Regions from separate parts of the Homo sapiens genome. Here region 2 is linked to region 1. The links come from fine-mapping of genetic effects on gene expression. A gene starts in region 1. The other region holds a variant in brackets. All regions are shown on one strand. Distances are between the middles of the regions. Region 1 holds the start of LINC00882 (long intergenic non-protein coding RNA 882). Region 2 overlaps LINC00882 (long intergenic non-protein coding RNA 882).

Region 1 (2,914 bases):
GTACACTTTTTTGTATGCTGTACTTCAACACGTTTTATTAAAAATATTTCTAAAAATCCAAATGTTCAGTAAGTTGTCCTATAATATGCATTAAAAAAGAATTAAAAAATACACAAGCATTTCAAAAGTTATTTTTTGTGGGTTAGGGTTATGGAGAATTTCTTTTCTGCTCTATACGTCTCAGAATTTTCCAAATGACCATAGTAGACATATATTACATTTATCACTAGAAAAAAATACTATTAAAATACAATTGTCTGAGATAATCTTGTACTACTTTTACACTAAACTAATTTAGTTCAAATGTGGGGACTTCAGCTTTTGCTCCCAGATGAAAAGAGCTTGTCATTTTGGAGCAAAGGAGGGCGTGGCAGTTGGTCGGAGTGTTTCCTGGTGGCCTAGGAGACTGCCAGAAACTCACCAAGGGCCACCGGCCTAGGGGGAGGAGCAGAGGTGCAGGTGCAGGGAGGGATTCAAGAGACTGTGAACTAAACCTGGGTGGGTCCCAGTCCTCACAAAACCTGGGTCCTAACTGCAAAACTATGGTCGGGCCTGGGAAGGGGCGGAGGACTCACTGGCGCTCTAGCCTCTGTGCTGGGTGAATTAGTGATTAGGCTCTAATCTTCACAGTCCTCATGATTCTATTTTTGTAAGGCCAGCAGCTAAGAGTGGTTTTTACATTTTCAAAACAAAGACGAATACGCTACAGAGACAGTTCCAGGCCCAAATTCTAGAGTATTTGCTTTCTGGCTCCTTACAGAAAAAGTGGGTAAACTTCTTGATTAGAGGGTCTAGGCAGAAGAATTCTAAGGTATTTAAAATTTTTACCTGGGAATGCGCTTGCTGGTGAGGCGGAGCCGGCGTGAAGCCAGTGTGCCCAGCGGCACTGGTACCACGCGATGCTGGATTGCCTAGGCTGGTCAGACGGAGCAAATCGGAATCCACGGAAGAAAATTCACCTCTTAAGGATCCAGTCCGGAAAGGGATGGCCGGGCTCTTCCTGGGCAGGGGTGCCCAAATGGATGAGGATGCTCTCTGCAGCCCTCGGCGGATCGCAAAGGAGCAGGGCTCCGGTCTTCTATCTGGGAAAACATGGTTGTCACTCGTGGAGAAGCCAACGGAGCCCCTGCGGAGTTTTCTTTCCTTTTCTCTGCTGCAGGCAGAAGAAGCGCATTGCGCGGTTCGCCGGGCTGTCTGCAACTTTGGGAGCTGCGCCGCGTGGGTGCGGCCAGCCGACCGGCGCGTGCGCAGTGAGTTCTCAGCGCCTCCCGCCGCGCAGGCTCGGCGTTGGCCTCCGCGGCCCGTGCGAGTGCGCCCTTCTCGGGTCCCCTAGGTCGCGGGGCAGCCGGGGCGGAAGGGGCTTGTTCATTATTTTGAGAGTTTGTTGTGAACGTCATAACCTTTCGTCCTTAAATATTGCCGATACTTGACCTACGCAAGAGACAATGTCATGTGATTCAGCCTAATATCTCAGTATGTATCCCCTAAGAATAAGGGATTTTTCTACATCAGGGTTTCTCAACCCCGCGCTATGGACATTTTGGGCAGGATGAGTTTTTGCTGTCTGTACCCGTAAGGTGGGGTGACGGGGTGGGGTGGGGGTGTCCTGTGCTAAACAATCACTATTTAGCAGCATCCTTGGCCTCTACCCATTAGATGCCAGTAGCAACCCCCTCCCCCAGTTGTGACAGCCAACGATGCCTCCAGACACTGCCAAACCCAAACGGTGTGGTTGGGGGGGTTGAGGGGGGGAGGGGTAGTGGTGAGGGTTGGGGGAAAAAGGAGAGGTACAAAGTTGCCTCAATTGAGGACCACAGGATCACAATGCACATCATCATACTTAGGAAATGTAACATTGTTATATTACAATAATCTATATTTCATATTTGAATTTCCTCAATTGTCCCAAAATGTCCTTCTTTACCCTGTAGTTTGTAAAATGTAAATCCGAGATTTAACAAGAATCACATAGTGCATCAATAAGAACCACATATTGCAGTTGTCAAGTCTCTTTCGCTTCCTTCAATATAGAGCAGTTCCCTAGCCTTTTTTGTTTGTTTCTCCTGGTATTGACATTTTTGAAAAGTCTAGCCCGGTGGTCTTCCAGAATATCCTTCAATTTGGAGATGTCAGATTGGTTCCTCATTATAAGATTCACGAGTAATAGATATGTACACACAAACATATATGCAGGAATTCTACCTAGGTGATGTATCCAATTTTATCTATTTTCAAATGACTTTTTAGCTGTCATAACATTTAATTTATAAAGCACCTCCCTGACCAGCGATTTGCAATATTTTTATCACATACGTAAATTTCCACATTGTAATTGGGTCTAAGATATATTTTCTTTTTTCCCCGCATTGATCTTATTGTCTACTTATGGGCTAATATACTGTTTTTATTAGAGACTATATTTCAGTATCTGGTAGGGCTAGACTGCATCATTGCTGTTTTCTTAAGTGTTTTTTTAATGCTGGGTTATTTTTTCATGTTAACTATAGAATATAGCCCCATAAAAGTACTTTCAAAAAAAAAATCTTCTGCATACCTTTTCAGTTTATGATGTTGCATTTTCCTTTTGAAAAGCAAGGTTTATTTTTTCTCGTGCTCAAGTTTCAGCTTTGTGTCTTTCAAGGAAGCATCATAAAGGTTTTTCACTTGTTAAGTTTATTCTTAGAGTATTTCTCTTTTTTGTTGGTATCGTAAGTGGGATTATCTCTTCCACTTTTCCTTATAACAGCTAGATTCTTACATAAATGAAGGTACTGATTTCTATGTCTAATTTTGTATCTTGCTACCATATTGAATCTCCTGTTGCTTCTAGGAGTTTCATGTTGATTGTATCTGTATCTCTTTTTACACTTTTATATAATTGCAGTGATTATCCATTTTGAAGTTCAAATTGCCC
Region 2 (2,914 bases), 37 kb after region 1:
TTGTTTAAATTCCTTATAGGTTCTGGATATTAGACCTTTGTTGGATATATAATTTGCAAATATTTTCTCTCATTCTGTACCTTGTCTGTTTACTCTGTTGATAGTTTCATTTGCTGTGCAGAGTTTCTTTAGTTTAATTAGGTCCCATTTGTCAATTTTTGTTTTTGTTGTAGTTGCTTTTGGCATGCTTGTCATGAAATCTTTGCCAGGGCCTATGTACAGAATGGCATTTCCTAGGTTATCTTCCAGGGCTTTTATAGTTTTAGGTTTTACATTTAGTGTTTAATCCATCTTGAGCTGATTTTTGTATATGGTGTAAGGAAGTGGTCCAGTTTCAATCTTCTGCATGTGGCTGGCCAGTTATCCTGATCTGCTTGTATTTGGATAACAAGTTGCTAATGTGAAAAGATATCGTTATGTCATTATTTTTTTCCCGATATTTGAGGCATTTTCGCAGAAATATGCAGAAGTCATGCCATAATTTTTTTATGCCTTTTTGTATAGTTTTGGAGTAAATTTCTAAAAGGCTAAATTTCTACATATGGACTTACTCAAATTATAAATTTCAAGTAAATGGACAAATATTAAGGGCAGATATAGAAGAACAATTGATTTTGAGTAGGTTTGTGGGAAAGATTTTGTAGGTGATGGAAGATTGAGCATATTTGTAGTAGAGGGAATAGAGTTGTGGTGAAGGAAACAGCAAAGGTGTGAGGGAGGCAGGAGATTTGTTTATTAGGCTGCAGATTGTTGAAAAAAGTGGAAGAAAAATGATCAGGTTCAATAAAGGAGAGATGAGTGGTGGAAGCCAGAGAAGGGAGATACAAATATGAAAACTTTCAAGCTGGGGCATTTCCAAGAGATGATAGGCTGCAAAGTGGCTGAAGTGGATCATAGTTGTAGTTGTTTGACATTGAGAAGGTCAAGAAAAATGTGGTGGCAGATGAGGAGCTGTTGATTTTTGTCTTAGGTGGCTAGAGCTATTAAGGAATTTAGGATGTGTCCTGGAGCTCACCAGATGATGGAGATAAAGATGTAGGAAAGTGCATAAGGGAGCAAGTGTGCCTCAGCAGAGGATGCTCAGGGCTGGTGAAGGGCAATTTTTTGGCAGCAGCAGTGTAGAATATGCAACATGAACTCCTCCAGGCCACTGAATTAAGAGGAATGCAAGATAGCAGCTCCCACAGGATAGAAAACTGGGAGTGAGCATCATATAGGAAAATTGAGATGTCCAGTGCAGTCAGGAGAATGTACATCTTGTTTTGGTTGATATGGTTTGGCTGTGTTCCCACCCAAATCTCATCTTGAACTGCAGCTCCCATAATTCCCATGTGTCATGGGAGGGACCTGGTGGGAAGCAACTGAATCATGTGGTTAGGTTTTTCCCATGCTGTTCTCATGATAGTGAATAAGTCTCATGAGATCTGATGGTTTCATAAAGGGGAGTTTCCCTACATGAGCTCTCTCTTGCTTGCCACCAGGTAGCTGTCCCTTTGCTCTTCATTTGTCTTCCACCATGATTGGGAGGCCTCCCCTGCCATGTGGAACTGTGAGTCCATTAAACCTCTT[C/T]CCTTTATAAATTAGCCAGTCTTGGGTATGTCTTTATCAGCAGTGTGAGAACAGACTAATACATTGGTTCTGTCTTTAATTACTAACACTGTCAATGAGCACTAACAATGTGGTAGACATCATGCCGGATATTGGGAATTCAGAGATTTAAAACAATGCACCATTATGAAAAGTGGGTGCACGTTGAATACAGCTGAAGTTGGCTTTCAAATCTGACATAATCACCACCAGCTCTGTGGCCCCACTAAAGTTCTCAACTTCCCTGAGACCCAGTTTCTTCATGTATAAAATAAGAATACTAATAATTTACCTTTTAGGGTTGTTTTGAGGATAAAATATAAAGTAAATAAAAAGTCTATCATAGTGCTACCTGAGAGTTGCTATTATTATTGTTGTTTGTTATTGTTATTTTGGTTTCTAATATGATCATCTGTTGGCGCAGATGTATGTAACTAACAATAAGTTGGTAGAAAGACTTAGGTTAAATCCCCCCTGACAATTTTACTTTGGGAACTCTGGCATTGGGTTAAGATTTAACGAGCTACAGAGGCCAGGAAGTTTTGTCACTGAGATGAAATAGGGAGATAGATCACAGGTGGAGGTTAGTAACAACACTGCAGTTTGTGTAGTGATCGTGGGTGCAGCCTGGAAGTAAGGTCCATGGTCTGTCTTGGGAACACATTGGTAGAAGAAGCAATTGCATCAGAAACCAGAGAAACCATCTATCTGGGCTTCAGTTTCTCTTTTGTTGGAAAAATATACCTCCCTGCTCCTGTTTCATCATTGTGAAGATTACATGAGATAATGTAAGTGAAGGTGCTTTGACAACTGTGAAGGGTCTATCTATATCAGGATGATATGTTTATGAATATTTGTGGGCAGAATTTCCAGTGGCTGCTGTTTCCACCATCCTGATGAGACATGGAGAAAACGTTGTGCTGTTCTCTACAGGAGAGTAAATCCAAGAGTTAAAAAAAAAATTATTGAAACATTTGTGAATGGTAAGAAAGAAAAATTTTGTAGTTCTGAGGAGAGAGCTTCTCTGGTAACTTCTAGTGTTATTCATCACTAGAAAATATTTTGCTTAGTAACAAATACTGTAATAAGATGAAATGTGACAATTTTCTAAGCCATTCTTGGATTCTTCAAAGGAAAAAAAAACTTCCATTGTTTATTTGGAATAATATCAGAAAATAGAGCTTTCTTGTCTGCTAATATTTCTATTCAGACTCGTGTGGCTCTTCTCTTTAAGCAGCCAGCCATCATAGCACATGTTCATCCTTCCCTTTGCTTGTCTTTTTCCTGGTTGGAGCGGGTTCTCCTAATTTAGTTAGCTCTTTTTACG

What was found.
Region 2: its variant is fine-mapped to the expression of LINC00882 in lymphoblastoid cells (GTEx, PIP above 0.99).

Annotation. Positions count from the first base shown.
Region 1 is chr3:107,239,002-107,241,915 of GRCh38, reverse strand. It overlaps LINC00882 (long intergenic non-protein coding RNA 882), which reads left to right and starts at 1,278. Exons shown (of 4, transcript NR_028303.1): 1 at 1,278-1,473. DUBR (DPPA2 upstream binding RNA) reads right to left here and starts at 1,224. Exons shown (of 4, transcript NR_028302.1): 1 at 829-1,224.
Region 2 is chr3:107,201,549-107,204,462 of GRCh38, reverse strand. The region is part of intron 1 of LINC00882 (long intergenic non-protein coding RNA 882); the gene reads left to right. Among named protein-coding and RNA genes, the nearest start is that of LINC00882, 38 kb to the left of the region's middle. The variant C/T (reference allele first, on the strand shown) is at 1,570.